Linked DNA regions of Homo sapiens. The protein of the gene in region 1 purifies or fractionates together with the protein of each later gene. This does not show direct contact. Each region holds a gene or a part of one and is shown in the gene's direction. Other genes may lie near its edges.

What was found.
Region 2: the proteins of ZC3H14 (region 1) and LUC7L2 purify together in Homo sapiens (affinity purification with mass spectrometry; 3 studies listed by BioGRID and IntAct, with this or other methods). This does not show direct contact.
Region 3: the proteins of ZC3H14 (region 1) and MKRN2 purify together in Homo sapiens (affinity purification with mass spectrometry; 2 studies listed by BioGRID and IntAct, with this or other methods). This does not show direct contact.

What each region holds. Positions count from the first base shown.
Region 1 is NC_000014.9:88,600,999-88,608,037, forward strand, and holds part of ZC3H14 (zinc finger CCCH domain-containing protein 14), read left to right. Parts: intron 1-925; coding exon 926-1,085; intron 1,086-1,829; coding exon 1,830-2,062; intron 2,063-6,244; coding exon 6,245-6,365; intron 6,366-7,039. UniProt on the Homo sapiens protein: RNA-binding protein involved in the biogenesis of circular RNAs (circRNAs), which are produced by back-splicing circularization of pre-mRNAs.
Region 2 is NC_000007.14:139,418,875-139,423,974, forward strand, and holds the end of LUC7L2 (putative RNA-binding protein Luc7-like 2), read left to right. Parts: intron 1-3,288; coding exon 3,289-3,466; 3' UTR 3,467-4,580; downstream 4,581-5,100. Other genes in the region: FMC1-LUC7L2 readthrough protein, read left to right, coding at 3,289-3,466. UniProt on the Homo sapiens protein: May bind to RNA via its Arg/Ser-rich domain.
Region 3 is NC_000003.12:12,567,068-12,574,106, forward strand, and holds part of MKRN2 (E3 ubiquitin-protein ligase makorin-2), read left to right. Parts: intron 1-1,807; coding exon 1,808-1,936; intron 1,937-3,003; coding exon 3,004-3,185; intron 3,186-5,001; coding exon 5,002-5,306; intron 5,307-7,039. UniProt on the Homo sapiens protein: E3 ubiquitin ligase catalyzing the covalent attachment of ubiquitin moieties onto substrate proteins.

The sequences.
Region 1 (7,039 bases):
GCTTGTTCCTTTACTGCTGACTTCAGATGTTCCTCCTTGCTAAGCTTTTCGTTGGTTCTTGGCTGGAGTGGGCTGTTCTGTATTCTCAGCACCTTGTTCACATCCCTTTTGGGTCATGCTATTCTGAAATTGTATATGTGTCTGTTTTTCTTTTTTTCTTTGTGTATCTAGCTCAGTTCTCTTAGTTGTTCAGTAAATACTCAGTGAATGAACATAAATGAATACCCTGTAAATTTTGGTCTCTAAGCTTTAAAAGAAGTGTATTAACTTCAGTCCGTTGATGGCGTATTGATAGGTCAGCCATTCTGGGTTGTAGGTCTTGGCATATTTTATAAAATAGTAGATGATGTGAGCTTATGGTTATTTGCATTAAAGGCCAGTGTTTTTCTTGATACATATGTTTAAGTGTCCATTCACCTTTCAGTTACCTTTTAAAGTAGTCCTCGGTTTATAACCAACTGGAAATTATACCACTTGAATTCTTTTTATCAGGACATGATTCTAAGTGGTACTGTGCGAAGTGAACAAACCAGATTTTGGAAAAGTGGTTCAGCAGTCTGTGTATTCTAATTATAGGGAGCATTAGGACTCAAATTCTCCAGGTTTTTAGAAAAGATTTTTGTACTTTAAGGGTATATTGTTAATATCTGTTGAGATGCCTCACCTGAGAACCTTTCTCTGCTGTGGTTAGGGAGTGTTAATCAGAATCACTTGTGCCGTGCCCTACGCGAGAAGGACTCCTTGAGTTCTTTGAAAACATGTTTGGAATAGAATTATAGCCCTGTTTTCCTGAGTGGAACCAGTTGTGATTTTCCTTTGAAATAATTTGAATATATAAAAGATTGACATTCTTCTCACATATATAATGTTGGGAATGTAAGGTATATTCAAAAGTAAACATTTGTGGCCAATTTTTTTGGCTCAGATTACTATGACATGGAATCCATGGTCCATGCAGACACAAGATCATTTATTCTGAAGAAGCCAAAGCTGTCTGAGGAAGTAGTAGTGGCACCAAACCAAGAGTCGGGGATGAAGACTGCAGATTCCCTTCGGGTACTTTCAGGACACCTTATGCAGACACGGTAGATGGTTTCTTTTTCTTGTGTAGTTAATTTGTGTGATTAGATAGTAAAGGTTAACCATTCGTTTGCAGCTTCCCTCCTCCCCGCCCTAACCGCTAGCGTAGAGTGCTTTCATTGATTCAGTAGCTAGCCCATGAATAGTTAGCCAAATTCAGTTTTCAAGAATTCCAGTTCATCTTTCTTGTTCAGAAATCCATTAACCTACAAATTACAACTCAGTGTATGATTTAACTCTATTAAAGATTCTTTTCTTTATGCAAATTCAGGAAATGCAAGTTTAAAAGCCAGCTGACCATAATCAGGTCAGCTCTAAAGAGAGTTGGCAGATCAGGTTTGGGTGATTTTTCCCTTAGAAAATTGACTGTTTCTATAAAAGAAGAAACATACAGATAATTAGCATAAATGCTGCTGGCCCTTGTGTTCTGAGCATTGATGCTAATTTTTTGGTTTGTTTCCATGTTGACCCTATGAAGATCGAATGGGTGATGGGGTCAGGCTTGAGGGGAGATTGTCCTTAGTAAGTACAGGCTGGAGGGTCACTGGTGATGCCACTGTGACTGTTCATGGCCATCGTGTGTTAGCAGAGAACCCACCAGTGCTGCACCTGGTAGCCCTACCTAGTCTTTTTTTATTGAACCAAACGCAAAGCCAAGGGAGTGATAGTTCTGCTGAAGAGCACTTTAGGGGGCTCAGCGTTTTGTGTTTGTTTCCCTAATTCTATGGTATTTTTTATCTGTCTGGCAGAGATCTTGTACAACCAGATAAACCTGCAAGTCCCAAGTTTATAGTGACGCTGGATGGTGTCCCCAGCCCCCCAGGATACATGTCAGATCAAGAGGAGGACATGTGCTTTGAAGGAATGAAACCCGTAAACCAAACTGCAGCCTCAAACAAGGGACTCAGAGGTCTCCTCCACCCACAGCAGTTGCACTTGCTGAGCAGGCAGCTTGAGGACCCAAATGGTAGCTTTTCTAACGGTGTGTTGAGAGCTCAGATTTTCAGGGTGCTGTCATTGTGAAGGGAATCTTTGACTTGTTTCTCTACCTTGAATGAATATTGGTTAAAGGCCTTGCTTTTATTTATATTCAGTAATGGCCTTTTTTCTTCTTTCAGACAAACCCACCAAGTACATTTCAGACTCTTTTTCCTGTGTCTTTTTCATAGGTGGGCTGTTACTCCAGTTTGAAAACGGAGTTCAGCCATGGAACCTGAGAGACCTCTTCCGCTTATGCTGGCTAAAGGATGAACCACCATTCTTGTTGCCTTCTTTACCTTTGTATTTTCTTCAGAAACTGTACTGCCACTTTGCCCTTTTATCAGCAATAGTCTCTTGCAATTAACTTGAGAGAAAAATTTAGATTTGATGCTATTTCTACCTCAGTGAAATTTCTTTGAAAGGAGTTTCTCACCTAATCTATCAAGATCTTGGAACTGTTTAAATTAATGTTGAAGAGTAATATTTAGCAGAACTCAGATGAACTCATTTCAGATAGCACCATAGTTTTTGGCAGGTGACAGTTTCTTATCACCGTTTCTTTCACTGGGTATCAGTGGTAGCTGCAACGCCACTGATCATTTCCATTCATGATAGAGAATGGTAATTATGTTCCTTATATCTTCTAAAATATTTAGAAGCACCTCTTCATTGGCAGGAGGGATAATTACTCAATCTTAAAAGCGTACAGATTCAAAGGAAAAACAGTAATGGATTTTGAAACATTTCCTTGAGTAATCCTCTTCTTGGAAGAGATATGAAAATGTATTGAATACCTTTCTCGATCATTAAAAATAGAATAGACTTCAGAGGGAAATCATATGTTAGTGGAGCAATAACACTTAGCTTTATTTTAATTGGTTGCGTTTCCTACTGTGAATCAATGACGTAGTGTCGTGGTTTTGATTAGTGGAGGGAGTTGAAAATCTGACCCTATCAACAGGAAGAAAAACTTAAAAAATAGTAAAAGCTGCAGTAGGCAGTCCCGATTTATTGACTCTGTATGTTTTGTCTAAAGAGAAGACTCCAGTGTTTTCACTACTCTTGATTTTCAATTTGGTACCTTAATTTTTTGGTCTATTAGGATCTGGTTTCATTTAAATGTAGGTGTCCATATGAGGCTTTATGGGGTATACATGTAGCAGCAGTGACACCATAAATAATATGTTAGTAAAAATTCTTGCCAGTGCTGTGGCCATTGTGCTGACAGCCATGATGAGTGGTGAGCCTCCTTTCCCATTGCTTTGACTGGGGACTCAGTGTTTCCCTGCTGCTCAAGGATGAAGCTTTGTAAGATTAGCATAGGGGTGTGGCTGGAGAGACTCCTGCAGAACAGTTCTCAGGAGTCTCTAGTCTCTGCACCACTTCCCCTGTGAGCAGGGAGTTTGAAACTGCAATTGCTTCTGGTTGGTTTTATGTTGGGTTGTTTCAAGGATGCTACCAACAACAACATCTGTTTTAACCTGCTGTCTTTTCACTCACTGTCATATGGCAGCACAGATTTTATAGCTTGCTTTCTTTGTTTTTTTTTTTTTTGAGATAGAGTCTCTCTGTCCCCCAGGCTGGAGTGCAATGGAGCCATCTCAGCTCACTGCAACTTCTGCCTTCCAGGTTGAAAGCCATTCTTCTGCCTCAGTCTCCCAAGTAGCTGGGATTACAGGCATGCACCATCACACCTGGCTAATTTTGTAGTTTAAGTAGAGACGGGGTTTTACCATGTTGGTCAGGCTAATCTCCAACTCCTGACCTCAAGTGATCCACCAACCTCGGCCTCCCAAAGTTCTGGGATTACAGGTGTGAGCCACCGTGCCTGGCCTATAGCTTTCAATAAAAGGTGAATTTGCCTCTTAAAATTTGAACAGAAAGTTTTAATAGTTTACAAAGTCGGTGTCAGCCAGTGAAGACTAGGGGCATGACCTTCGTATGACTTAATGTTTTTAAAAGAAAGATAAAGTTTCTTTGTAAGGTATTATTGTAATAATCACATTTCTTTGTAAAGTATTATATTGTTCCTGAGTATCTAGCTACTTTGCTTTCCAGCTAGGCTTCTCTTGGGTATTCTCTTAATCTTTTATTTGTACTGGGTTCTTGTGTATATATTATAGTCTGCTGTGTGTAATTTATTATAGGAAAAGGGTAAGACACATTTACTTTGCGGGGATGACACAAAAAACCTGTAAAAATTAGAGAAACTTCCAGTCATCTCACATTTTCTTTGGAACCGATTATTCTTGTATCTTAGAACTAAAATGACTTATACTGTTTTGTTTTTAGAAAGGGTATCCCTCCTGTTGCCCAGGCTGGAGTGCATTGGCACAGTCATGGCTCACTGCAGCCTCCACCTCCCAGGCTCAAGTGATTCTCCCACCTCAGCCTCCTGAGTAGTTGGTTACTACAGGTGCACACCACCATGCCTGGCTAATTTTTTGTATTTTTTGTAGAGATGGGGTTTCACCATGTTGCCCAGGCTGGTCTGAAACTCCTGAGCTCAAGTGATCTGCCCGCCTCGGCCTCCCAAAGTGCTGGGGTTACAGGCATGAGCCACCACATCCTATTTAAAGCTTAAATAGGACTTTTACTATTTTTAAAGTAGCATAGAAAACTGTTTGTATCAGGCATAGTCATAATTGCTCTTTGATGCTGCTCCTATCTGGGCTGCATGACTACATTTGTGTGCCTTGTTCTCCTGTAGTGAGGACAGAATGTGGGTCACTGGAACAGTAAGTACTCATAGAACTAGCTGCTGCTGCTATTACGACTGGTTGCCTGTTTTGCATTTTTTCCGTTTAATCATCAGACTCTAAGGAAGACATTATTTTCTCTTTGTATAGATGAGGAAACAGAATTCCAAAAAGTTAGCTAACATTTGCACAGAGTGTCTGGCTGAGCAACTAAGTGGCAGAGTCAGATTTTAACTGACCTCTGGCAAGAGGACTAGAGGAATACAGTTGAAGTGATACTTGCTTTCATGAACATGAATGTGAACCATAATACATAATACCCATGATGCTATTTTGTGGGGAGTTTAAGGTGTCTCAGTCCAGAAATTAGCAGCTGATTATTGCCTGTAGCTGTAATTTTACTTATTCAGTGTTATTTAATAAATTGCCAGCATTACAATTTCGATGAAGGCAGATTTTTGGCTTACTGAAACAGGATAAAAATCTGGCAACAGGGGTCCCACTTTGCCCTGTCATAGTAATCGAAGCTGTGATTGGATGTGGCACAGGGAGTGGAGTGGATGGGTGTGCACTTGCTTTCCAGGCTGCTGCTCCCCGTCTGTCCCTTATTGCATTTATCATCTTCAGCCCAGTCAGTCTTGCTGTTAGGGGAACTGCCCAGTCTCTGTAAGTGATGGCATTTGTGACCCCATTGTAGGTAAAAATGTTTTCCCCTTTTTAGACATTGCTGGCTGAGCGCGGTGGCTCATGCCTATAATCCCAGCACTTTGGGAGGCCGAGGTGGGTGGATCGCTTAAGTCCTGGAGTTCAAGACCAGCCTGGGCAACGTGGGGAAACCCTGTAGCCAGGCGTGGTGGCACGTGCTACTTGGTAGGGGCTGAGGTGGGAGTATCACTTGAGCCTGGGAGGCAGAGGTTGCAGTGAGCCGAGATTACACCACTGGCACACCACTGTACTCCATCCTGGGTGACAGAGCAGGACCCTGTCGTAAAAAAAAAAAAAAAAAAAAAAAGTAAAAGACATTGCTGAGTTTCGCACCTGGACTTACAGCTCAGCAGGTGGGAATCCTTTTGTATTTGGGCCACTCATCATCTTGCTGGCGTGTGAGGATTCACATCTCCTTATCACCTTACCTGTTTTCAGTTTTTATTTAATTTTATTAGTTCCCCACTTGACGTCCTTCTCTATTTTTAATTCAGCTATGAATTAGTATTGAGAATTAGAATTTTTGGTGAAAAATTTGGCCGTAGTTGCAGAGTCACTGTCCTCTTTCCTTTTCACAGTGAGAACTGTTGTCTTCTTCCTGGCAACCTTTTATAGGATTCTATGGCCAGTGTTAATCCCATAATTTGAGCTCACTTATTTTATATGACTGTACATTTAACAGAAGATTCTAAGACAGGTTTGAGGGAAATATGTTAAAGGTGCTGTGTACTGAATTGATCATAATGAATGAAATACTTTTATTTCCTTTCCCTTTGTAGCTGAGATGAGTGAACTGAGTGTGGCACAGAAACCAGAAAAACTTTTGGAGCGCTGCAAGTACTGGCCTGCTTGTAAAAATGGGGATGAGTGTGCCTACCATCACCCCATCTCACCCTGCAAGTGAGTACCATCCCCCCATCTCACCCTGCAAGTGAGTACCATCCCCCCATCTCACCCTGCAAGTACCATCCCCCATCTCACCTGGCAAGTACCATCCCATCTCACCCAGCAAGTACCATCCCCCACATCTCAACCCTCAAGTGAGTACCATCCCATCTCACCCTGCAAGTACCATCCCATTTCACCCTGCAAGTACCATCCCCCATCTCACCCTGCAAGTACCATCTCCCCATCTCACCCTGTAACTACCATCCCATCTCACCCTGCAAGTGAGTACCATCCCTGCATTTCACCCTGCAAGTACCATCTCATCTCACCCTGCAAGTACCACCCCCTCATCTCACCCTGCAAGTATCATCCCCCATCTAGCCCTGTAAGTGCGAGTACCATCCCCCATCTTACCCTGCAAGTACCATCACCCACTTCACCCTGCAAGTACCATCCCCCACCTCAGCCTGCAAGTACCATCCCCCACCTCAGCCTGCAAGTACCATCCCCTATCTCACCCTGCAAGTACCATCCCCATCTCACCCTGCAAGTATCATCCCCCACCTCACCCTGCAAGTACCATCCCCCATCTCACCCTGCAATTGAGTACCATCCCCCATCTCACCCTGCAAGTACCATCCCCCATCTCACCCTGCAAGTGAGTACCATCCCCCATCTCACCTTGC
Region 2 (5,100 bases), on another chromosome or scaffold:
TGGGAGACCGAGATGGGCGTATCACTTGAGATCAGGAGTTCAAGACCAGCCTGGCCAACCAACCCCATCTCTACTAAAATACAAACATTAGCCGGGCATGGTGGCACATGCCTGTAATCCCAGCTACTCAGGAGGCTGAGGAAGGAGAATTGCTTGAACACAAAGGTGGAGGTTGCAGTGAGCCAAGATCGCACCACTGCACTCCAGCCTGGGTGACAGAGCGAGACTCCAGCTCTCAAAACAAAAAAAAACAAACAAAAAAAAAAACAAAAAGTCTCCTATGTGAGTTAGAACAAAGGATTGACATCTTTGACAATAATTAGACTGGCATAAGACTACCACATGTTATAAAGTGCTAAACTGCATATCATAGAATAAATGATCCGAGAGTTTAGATGAGGCAAATAACAGAGTAATCAAAAATGGCTTCAGGTAGTCGGTAAAATTTGAACAGGTAGAATCAGCTAGGAAAAAGATATTCCATATAGAGTGAATATCCTAGGCAAATGCAGAGAATGAGGAGGGAGTTTGTAAAGGACAGAGTGATTTGTAGGCCTCTTATCTCACACTCTTGAAACTGATTTTGGGGGTCTACCCTCAGTGCAGTGTTCAGAAATAAGCATTTTTTAAAAGTTACCTGTCTTATCTGCACAATGAATTTTCAGAATTATCCTGCTAGGTGATGGAAGGTTTAGACATTTTCCTGTGTCAAATCTGCCCAACTGTCATTGTTGTTGCTGAACTCCTAAATGTCTTTATTGGTGATGGGTATGGGAAGGATGGGCGTGAAGTCCCCTAATCTGAGATTGTGTTATTTTAGTCCCTGATGCTTCCTGCGTTGATGAAGTTGTATAGGAATTTTTCCACCATACATGATACATGATCATATCTAAGATGTCAGCATGTTCATAAAGAGGATTATTTTTGTAAAACTATTAAAAGTTTTGCTTTTCTCGAGCACTTTCTCATCTTTGAATTCAAATTATTCTCTTTTAAAGCATCATTCTTTGTTTTATACTAAAAATTACCAGATAATTGCTGTTAAAACCTACTTGGTATTTCATACAACATCAAGTTATTGCTACATATTTGGGTTTAATTTTTCAAGGTAAAAGTTCTTATTGAAAGCCTTTTATGTTTTGCTGTTCTCCTTTCCCTACTGTGAAATACTTGTCTCTGATACAAGTAGATTCTTTGTGACCTCTTCCTGGCAATAGTGCCCTGCGTAAATGAGGACCATTTGCATCTATCTATCTTTTTGCTCTGTTCAAACATGTTTAGTGCAGACTCCAAAGTCAGATTACTTGGGTTCATTGGTTTAGGCTAAGTAATTTATTTTTTTTTTTGAGACGAGAGTCTCGTTCTGTCACCCAGGCTGGAGGGCAGTGGCGCGATCTCGGCTCGTTGCAACCTCTGCCTTGCGGGTTCAAGCGATTCTTTTGCCTCGGCCTCCCAAGTAGCTGGGATTACAGGCCCAGGCCACCACACCTGGCTATTTTTGTATTTTTAGTAGGGACAGGGTTACGCCATGTTGGCCGGGCTGGTCTCAAACTCCCGACCTCAGGTGATCCACCTGCCTTGGCCTCCCAAAATGCTGGGATTACAGGCATGAGCCACCACGTCCCACCTTGGCTAAGTAATTTATAACTATCTCACCTGTCTTTCCCCATCTACTAAGTGGAGAAAGTAAGAATACCTGCTTTGTTAAGATTATTGGTAGTTTGAGTAAAATAGTATATGGAAACCACTATGTGTGGGACATAGTAGTTGATACTCATAGTTTTTTAGTTATTACTGATCACTGGGACTGTTTGGCATCTAGTGTCTTTTTAGGTATCATTTTTACCATCTCTTTTCATATTTTATTCCAACAAAGGCTATGGATAGGACTAGTGTAGACGTGGAATCACTAGACTTGGCACTGTGATTTTTTGTTGTTGTTGAGATGGAGTCTTGCTCTGTCACCCAGGCTGGAGTGCAGTAATGCGATCTGGGCTCACTGCAGCCTCCGCCTCCCAGGTTCAAGTGATTCTCCTGCCTCAGCCTCCCGAGTAGCTGGGACTACAGGCACACGCCACCACTCTCAGCTAATTTTTTGTATTTTAAGTAGAGACGGGGGTTTCACTATGTTGGCTAGGCTGGTCTTGAACTCCTGACCTCAAGTGATCTGCCTGCCTTGGCCTCCCAAAGTGCTGGGATTACAGGCGTGAGTCACCGTGCCCAGTCTTTTTATATCATTTTAAGTTTATTAAAACATTAAGTAGAATGTTCAAAGTGGACATTATTTTAGAACCATTTTTTGTTTAACCCTCCTTAACTATATTTCTAAAACTGAACAGTCATATTTTTTATTTTCCTGAAAGTATTACTTATTCAGGTTCTTGGTAGTGCCTCAGATCCTAATTTTGAATATGGGTTGAGTGAGATAATTATGTAAAAGTGCTGTGTCACCTGTAAAGAACCAAATAAATGTAATTTGTTGAATTTTAGATGTTGGAAGTATGGAAGATTCCATGTTTATTCTGATTCCATAATATGTTTGGTTTTCCGATTGATTTATTATTTACCTTTCTTATAATGAAGTTGGGTATGGGAATGGAGAAGGTAGTAAACAGTTATGGCTAATCAAGATTTATTAGTGTGAGCATCTTTGTCTTTTTTTATTTCCCCTTGTTGGTTGAATAAGCTAACTCAGTATGAGTAGATTTTTAGAAGTGGTTATTTAAATTCATATTAATAATTGAGTAGTTCTCTTATCTAAGTCAGGTGTTGGCAAACTGTTGCCGATAGGCCAAATCTGGCCGGTAGCCTGTACAACCAGCAAGCTATGGATGGTTTTTACATTCTAAAAAGAAAAGAACTGCCACAAAGATTGCATGGACCTGCAGTACCCCAGATAGTCACCATCTGGCCCCTATTCTAAGCCATTTAAAATTTAGATAATACATTTCTTTCACTTTTTAAAGCTGTTATCTATGTATTATTTTTTATATTAAAATACCTTTTATGAATTGGAGAAACTCTGTGTTGTCTCTGAGATGAGAGTAGCCTGTAAGAAATTATTTTAGCCTTCTGACCCTCTGCTATTTGTTTTTCACCCATCTTCTTGTTTTAATGCCCTTATCAACTATGGTAGTGCTCTGTAATTTGTCAGAAAACTGACTCCTCTGTCATGGGTATATTCGTCTATATATCTTCAGCTATCAAGAGCTTAATATTTATCCTATTCTTTAATTTGGGTTTTTGGGTTTCCCAACATATTTTGCTCCTCAAATTAATATTTTTCAGATCCTCAAAAGAAAGATTCAGAGACCAAGACTTAGCATCATGTGACAGAGACAGGAGTTCAAGAGACAGATCACCTCGTGACAGAGATCGGAAAGATAAGAAGCGGTCCTATGAGAGTGCTAATGGCAGATCAGAAGACAGGAGGAGCTCTGAAGAGCGCGAAGCAGGGGAGATCTAACTAGCTGTGTACATTTCTTCAGTCCTTAAGCTTCCTACGGAGTTACGTACTATTGTTTAGTTCACAGCTGTTCAGGGTGACAGTGAGCAGATCCAGACACCAGATCCAGCTAGGCTAGATGTACAGTATCTAACTTGATCTGAACTGAACCTGTTTTCCTTGATGATGCCTAAAACTACATCCATAGTTTCTGGTGAACCTGTAATACAGTTCTGAAAGTACAGTTTTATATAATAAGATGCTGATCTCTTTATTCTTTCAAGTAAGAGTGCTAGTGAACAAATTGTGTTACTTGCCTTGGGATTTTTTGAACGTTTGTAAAATGCTGTCTTCCTAGTCCAAACAGCTGCAGCTTTGGGCATTTTTCTTTTTAATTATTCTTCCTCTGACTTTGTATCCCTTAATACCTACACTCTCCAATTGTAAGAGAAAGGGGGCAGGGAAGCAATATAGCTTCCATTCTAAGGCTGTATTCCCGTTATGAATTACTAGCTGATTACAGTTCAGAGCATTGATCCTGGAATGTGTGCTGGAGAAATTTAAAATACTGGGGTTTTTTGTTTAATGGTGCCTATTTAGAGTTGGAAGTTGAACAGCTGTTGCATTACATACTTTTGCTTTTTTATTGAAATTTTGAAATCAAACGTCTTGATTTTTCTGTTCTGTTGAATTGCTATGTTCAGGATGTTCTAGGGGGTGGGGGCAGGGACTCTTTTCGTAATAAGCACTTGTTTTATTTTGTGTGTGTGGAGTATAAAGGCTACACCCTTATTGTAAAAAAATAATAATAATAAAATGAAAGAAACAATCACCACCACCATTATTAAACTGTAACTTGTCTAGTAAATTGTCACTAGAACTATTTGCTGTGGGCATTTCCTCTATTCTGTTACGTCATTAACAGTGCCTTACTGTGCAAGGCACCAAAGGACATAAATACGTACTTGCAAAGATTCCAGATGAGCTGTTCATGTGGGCCCCTTGCTGACTATATTCCAGCCACTTCAGGGTTGTTTGTAATGACCGTTATAGAGAAGGGCTCGACCTGCAGAAGAAACTGGGGTGTTTTTATTCTCATTCAACAAACCCAAATAAAAACAGTATATGTAACCAACATAATGAGACTTAAGTTTCTGCCTTGAAGAGTTGTATATCCGTTAGTAACTTAAACTGTAATTGGCAGGTATCACTTGTGATTCTGGAAATTCTGAGGAACACAGATTCCTTAAGTAATGAAATTAGTATCTGTGGGTATCATTAACTAAGGTCACCTTTCAAGAACTGTTAATGTCCTTTGTCCCCAAGTTTGACAGATTTGATGTCAGAGGCATGTGGGCCTCTGTGAAGGTGCTGAGAGAATGGGAAACTAAGGCCATTCTAAGTGATACCAGATTACGTTAAAAACCCTCATCAAGTTCCCAATTTACCAAGCTATGCCTCATTAACTGAGGGTTTTCTGCTGTATTTGGTTCCACACATGCAATTTATATGGCATTTAATCTGAGAGACCCATCTGCCTCAGTGGCCCATTTCCCTTTTATTTTTGGTTGCTAAGAAATGTTTTGTATCTCCTTTGTTCCGGGTAGTCTGTGCTGTTCTAAATCCTTACAAGCACTTCAGATTTCGTACATTGG
Region 3 (7,039 bases), on another chromosome or scaffold:
CACATTATTTTCTGCTTTTTGGCATATCTAGTAATTTATGATTGGATGCCAAGCATTGTGAGTTTCTGAGCATTTGGATTGTATTGTCTTCCTTTAAAGTTTGTTTTGGCTGACAGTAAGTTATATACTTGCTATCAGCTTGTGTTTTTTTTTTTTAAGCCTTATTAGGGTGTGTCTAAAATACTTCTACTCTAACACTAGTTTACTTTTTTTTTTTCTTTTGTGAGACAGGATCTTGCTGTCACCCAGGCTAGAGTGCAGTGGCACAATCATGGCTACTGCAGCCTTGAACTCCTGGGTTTAAGCAATCCTCCTGTCTCACTCTCCTGAGTAGCTGAACCACAGGTGCATACCACCATGCTAGGCTAATTTTTAAATTTTAGGGTCTCCCTTTGTTGCCCTGGCTAGTTTATCTTTTTTTTTTTTTTTTTTTTTTTGAGACAGAGTTTTTGCTCTTGTCACCCAGGCTGGAGTGCAATGGCGCAATCTCGGCTCACCGCAACCTCCACCTCCTGAGTTCAAGCGATTCTCCTGCCTCAGCCTCCCAAGTAGCTGGGATTACAGGCATGCACCTCCACTCCTGACTAATTTTGTATTTTTTTTAGTAGAGACGGGGTTTCTCCATGTTGGTCAGACTGGTCTGGAACCCCCGACCTCAGGTGATGCGCCCGCCTTGGCCTCCCAAAGTACTAGGATTACAGGTGTGAGCCACCACACCCAGCCTAGTTTATCTTTAATATCAAGACATGTTCATCTAGGGTCTCTACTGTTTGAGTATTCACTCAGGTCTCTCTACCCTGTCTGGACAGAGTTAGCCTCCCAGGTATTCCTGTACCACTTATTCTTCAAGGCCAGGATCTGATATCTCAGTGGAATATTCTGATACAGAACATGTGATACATCTGATATTCTGAAACATCTGAAACAATGTATGAGAAACAGCTTTCATTAAAAACTACAAGTACCCATACAACCTTTCTGTTTCTCACTTTCAGTACGGTGTTCAATAAATTGCATGAGATTATTCTACACTTTATTGTAAAATAGATTTTGTGTTAGATGATTTGGCCCAACTGTAGGCTGATGTAAGTGTTCTAAGCATAAGTAAGGTAGCCCAGGCTGAGCTAGGAGAATCGCTTGAACCCGGAAGGCAGAGGTTGCAGTGAGCTGAGACTGTGCCATTGCACTTCAGCCTGGGTGACAGAGAGACTCCATCTCAAAACAAAAAACAAAAAACAGTGGCTTTATTGGGATGTAACTCCATCATTAGTCAAGGAGCATCTGTGTATATCTTTTGATACCACACTATGGTATTTGATCCTCACCACGACCAGTTAAGTGGGTAGTATAATCTTCATTTTATAGGGAAAGGTAGCAAGGCCCAGGGAAGTTGGTTTTGTGACATGTTCTTAAGTGGCAGAGCTGGGTCTTGAGCCCAGATCTTCTGGTTTCGTTAGTCATGCCCTTTAAGCTCCTTGAGAACAGAGAGAACAGTTTTTCACAGAGTGTTTTCTCAATTATGTGGCTCACATTGAACATATCTCAAATCAGGAAGATATATCTTCACATAGAAATATATGGGATCATTTGTTTTTCTTTCAGAAAAGCTGTCATTGAATCAGTTGTAGTGCCTCTGAAATCACTGTTGTAGAATCAAGGAAATATATAGATCTCTCTCCAGTGCCTAATAGAGCCTTTATACATAATATATGCCTGGTAAATGTTTGTATGCTAAGTTCAAGAATAAGCTGATTTTATAAAGCAAAATGTGCTTCTAAAAGTTGTATGCCTGTGCTTGTCTCTGCAGGTATTTTATGCATGGTGTGTGTCGGGAAGGAAGTCAGTGCCTATTCTCACATGACTTGGCAAACAGCAAACCGTCCACCATCTGCAAGTACTACCAGAAGGGCTACTGTGCCTATGGAACTCGGTGCAGGCAAGGACTCTGCAACAGATTCCAGCTGTGACACTGATTTCATTTGGAGAATGGGTCTTGATAAGGGGGAAATTTTAATGTAAAAGTAATATGGCAACATCACAAAAAGTATGGCAAATAAGTTTAAAACCTCAGTTTCAGTACCCTAAAACTAATTTTCTTTTCTTTTTTTTTTTGAGATAGAGTCTCTCACTGTTGCCCAGGCTGGAGGGCAGTGGTGCGATCTCAGTTCTCTGCAACCTCCGCCTCCAGGGTTCTCCTGCCTCAGCCTCCCAAGTAGCTGAGATTACAGGCATCTGCCACTACGCCTGGCTGATTTTTTTTTTTTTTGTATTTTTAGTAGAGATGGGGTTTCACCATGTTGGTCAGGCTGGTCTCTAACTCCTGACCTCGTGATCCTCCCGCCTCAGCTTCCCAAAGTGCTGGAATTACAGGCGTGAGCCACCGTGCCTGGCCTAATTTTCATTTTTTAAAACTACTTTTCAGCCTTATTCTTATGAATATATAGTTATAAAATTGTACACAATTCCGGAAACTTGTTCATGCTTTTGTAGCAAAGAGCCGATCTTTTCTTTCTAGACTGCAAAGCTTCCTTCCCTCCTTTTTCTCTGCAGTGCAGTGGGAGATGATGGAAGTAGGCCCACGTTGGTCTTCCCCTGTCAATGAGTGCCAAGAGAGACAGTCAGGGAGAGATCATTGGCCCTTGTCAGCATTTTGGGGACTCCTGCTCAAAAGAATACTGGGTCAGTCAGGCATCAGGAGATTTTAGCTCAACATCTGTTTGGAACTTTCAGGTTCTCTGTGTGGTCTGGTGCTGTGTGTCTGTCCCACTCAAGTCCCACAGAGACACTTAAGCATAGGTGATAGATAGCAAATGTCCCCCTCACAATGAATTGCCAAGCATCTGTTAATAATCGATAATCCTGTTAGAGTTTAAATATTGGAAAAGATGGCCGCCTTCTTCACCTCAACAAGTGCAGCAGAAGGAGGGCCATTGGCATCTGGGGAGTGTGGGAGATGTGTGTGGGTGGCATGTCTGTAATGCATCTGCTGTGTGTTTTGTTTAGATATGACCACACGAGGCCCTCTGCTGCAGCTGGAGGTGCTGTGGGCACCATGGCCCACAGTGTGCCCTCCCCAGCTTTCCACAGTCCTCACCCTCCTTCCGAGGTCACTGCATCCATTGTGAAAACTAACTCACATGAACCCGGAAAGCGTGAAAAGAGAACATTGGTTCTTAGAGACCGAAGTGAGTAAGCGGAAGCCTTTTGTTGCGTCTTTTTGCATAGCACTCTTGTTAATGCTTGGTGCTCCTTTCTAGCCTCCTCTTGTCAAGAGGACTCCTAACCTAATACACCTCCAGATTGTCTGCGCGGAGAGACTTCAGAACTGTTCTGAAGAGGCTCCATGTGGCTGCAGATCATTCAAATGATACATTCGCCCTCGTGCCCAAGGCTGGGTTGAGCTCCAAGACTGGCCTGGTAAAACATAAAAACACAATCTTTTTGTCAACATGTAACTTCCATCTTCATATGGTGGTTGTCCAGCTGGTGAGAAGCATCAAGCTCTTCATTTCAAACGTAAATATTTTGTCTGGGTAAAGTGGCTCACACCTATAACCCCAACACTTTGGGAGGCTGAGGCGGGTGGATCACCTGAGGTCAGGAGTTCGAGACCAGCCTGGCCAACATGGTTTAGTAGAAACCCTGTCTCTACTAAAAATACAAAAATTAGCCGGGTGTAGTGGCAGGTGTCTGTAATCCCAGCTACTTGGGAGGCTGAGGCAGGAGAATTTCTTGAACCCGGGAGGCAAAGATTGTAGTGAGCTGAGATCACGCCACTGCACTCCAGCCTGGATGACAAGAGTGAGACTCCCTCTCAAAAAAAAAAAAAAAAAAAAGAAAACTAAATATTTTGCTAAAGAGCATGTTTCACTGTTTGACTTTTAGGCCAGTGAATGGTCTTAGTTTTTATGCTGACAGTGTTTGACAGTTTAGATTGCACCTTTGGGAAAAGAATAGCACACTAGGGTTTGGGGCATGGTCTGTGCCTTAAAACAGGGTTTGATGAGGAAGAAAGCTACAAATTGTAAAAGTTTTTTTGTTGTGTTTTTTGTTTGTTTTGTTTTTGTTTTTTTTTTGGAGATGGAGACTCGCTCTGTCGCCTAGGCTGCAGTGCAGTGGCATGATCTCCACCTCCCGGGTTCAAGGGATTCTCTTGCCTCAGCCTTCTGAGTAGCTGGGAATACAGGTGCCCACCACCATGCCCAGCTAATTTTTGTATTTTTAGTAGAGACAGTGTTTCACTATGTTGGCCAGGCTGGTCTCAAACTCTTGGTCTCATGATCCGCCCGCCTCGGCCTCCCAAAGTGCTGGGATTACAGGCAAGAGCCACTGCACCTGGCCATAAAAGTTGTTTTTATTGGCTGGTCCTCACCAGGTGAAGAGATTTCTAGTTCTTGGAATTGGCTACCATGAGGTAGGCAGATTCTGTCCTCAGCAAATGAGTAATCCTGTGAGAATACGTGACCTCTAAACAAGCTCGGAGGTGTGCAGTGGGAAGGCAGCAGCTCCTGGCGTGAGAAGGGGTGACCATGGGGCAGTTTACACTGGCCTCAGGACCCACAGATTTGCTCTAGACATCTATTCTAGTTCACTTAAAATGATTTTACCTTTGCTGGTATGAAGGAAACACTGTGTTCTAGTGCTCTCACTGTTTTTTTGTTTGTTTTAGTGTTAACTGGTCCATGTGTTAACATTTCCATATTTGCCATTTTAAACGGCTTTAGTGTTCTTTTGTATAAGTATATCCTATTGTTTTGCTATTTCCCTGTCTTGCCATTTTTGTTTTTTGTTTTTTGTTTTTTTAAGTAATTATAAGTAATGTCACTATGAACATTTTATACTATTCCTTTTATTTTTCCCCTTCGGTGTGTTTTTTTTGCCATATGTTCTCAAGAGTGGAATTCTTAGGTCAGAGTAGCTTAATATGTTAGGCTTTGGCTAACGGCATACCAGAAAAATGGGGCCATTTTCATGTGCATGTGTGCTGTGTGTTGTTTTCAGATCTCTCTGGCATGGCTGAAAGGAAGACCCAGCCGAGCATGGTGAGTAATCCAGGCAGCTGCAGCGACCCCCAGCCCAGCCCCGAGATGAAGCCGCATTCCTACCTGGATGCCATCAGGAGTGGCCTTGATGACGTGGAGGCCAGCAGCTCCTACAGCAACGAGCAGCAGCTGTGCCCCTACGCAGCTGCTGGGGAGTGCCGGTTTGGGGATGCCTGTGTCTACCTGCACGGGGAGGTGTGTGAAATCTGTAGGCTGCAAGTCTTGCACCCATTCGACCCAGAGCAGAGGAAGGCTCATGAAAAGGTAAAGTCACAAACCTTTGCATGAACTCATGTTAAGAAATCTGAAATGTACTGAACAGGACACGGAAGGCCATCCATATACACTCAAGAAATCTGAAATGTACTAAGTGACAGAATTGTTGGTATTTCCACAGGCATCCCCCTGCCAGTAATACCCATATTATGTATCTGGTATATTTACATCCTGTTTTCAGGTTCTTTTTCCTGCAGTCATTTTGCCATTTTTTTTTTTTAATGGAGTCTCCCTCTCACCCAGGCTGGAGTACAGTGGTGCAATCTCGGCTCACTGCAACCTCTGCTTCCCTGGCTCAGGTGATCCTCCTGCCTCAGCCCCACCGAGTAGCTGGGATTACAGGCGCCCACCACCACACCCGGCTACTTTTTGTATTTTTAGGAAAGATGGGGTTTCACCACGTTGGCCAGGCTGGTCTCGAACTCCTGACCTCAAGTTGTCCGCCTGCCTTGGCCTCCCAAAGTGCTGGGATTACAGGCATGAGCCACCATGCCCGGCCTATTTTGCCAATTTTTAATTACTCAGAATAAAGAGAAAAAGAAGTCGTATCTGAAATATAAAATCATGCTAAGTTCAAAGAACAGATCTAGCTCAGGACCATGGTATGTCGTCTGTGTGTATGTCTCTATCACATGCAGATACAGCATCCTCCCTCCCTGGGTTCACACTTCCTCATGGTTGGGATCCAGCTAGGTGAAGTTTTGGAAGATTTGAGCCCAAATCATAGAATCTGAGGAGCCACTTGTTGGAAGGGCCTTTTAAAGTCATTAATGTCTGCAGTGTTTTGGGAGGCTTTGCCTTATGCTAGGCCCTATGCATGATGCAGAGGGTACGAAGCTGGATAAGAGGCGGGGGAGGGCCAGGCATGGTGACTCACACCTGTAATCCCAGCACTTTGGCAGGCCAAGGCAGGCAGATTGCTTGACCCCAGGAGTTTGAGACCAGCCTGGGCAACATGGTAAGATCCCCGTCTCTACAAAAAAAAAAAAATACAAACATTAGCCAGGTGTGGTGGTGCACACCTGTAGTCCCAGCTACTCGGCAGGACTGAGGTGGGAGGATCACCCGAGCCTGGGAAGCAGAGGTTGCAGTGAGCCAAGATTGTGCCACTGCACTACAGCCTGGGCAATAAGAGTGAGACCCTGTCTCAAGAAAAATAATAATAAAAAAATTTAAAAATGCCAGGTGTGGTGGCTTGGCTAACTTTTAAAATTTTATTTTATTTTGGCTGGGCACAGTGGCTCACGCCTGTAATCCCAGCACTTTGGGAGGACGAGGCAGGCGGATCACAAGGTCAGGAGATTGAGACCATCCTGGCTAACATGGTGAAACCCCGTCTCTACTAAAAATACAAAAAGTTAACTGGGTGTGGTGGCGGGCGCCTGTAGTCCCAGCTACTTGGGAGGCTGAGGCAGGAGAATAGTCTGAACCCAGGAGGTGGAGCTTGCAGCGAGCTGAGATTGCACCACCGCACTCCAGCCTGGACGACAGAGAGAGACTCTGTCTCAAAAAAAAAAAAAAATTATTTTATTTTTCAGAGGTGAGGTCTTGCTATGTTGCTTAGGCTGGTCTTGAACTCCTGAGATCAAGCAGTCCTCTTACCATGGCCTCCCAGAGTAATGGGATTACAGGTGTGAGCCACTGCACCTGGCCTAAGGCATGTTTAAATGGACAGCGTATTCCTAGATAATCAAGAGGTAAATTAGTACTGACTCCATGTG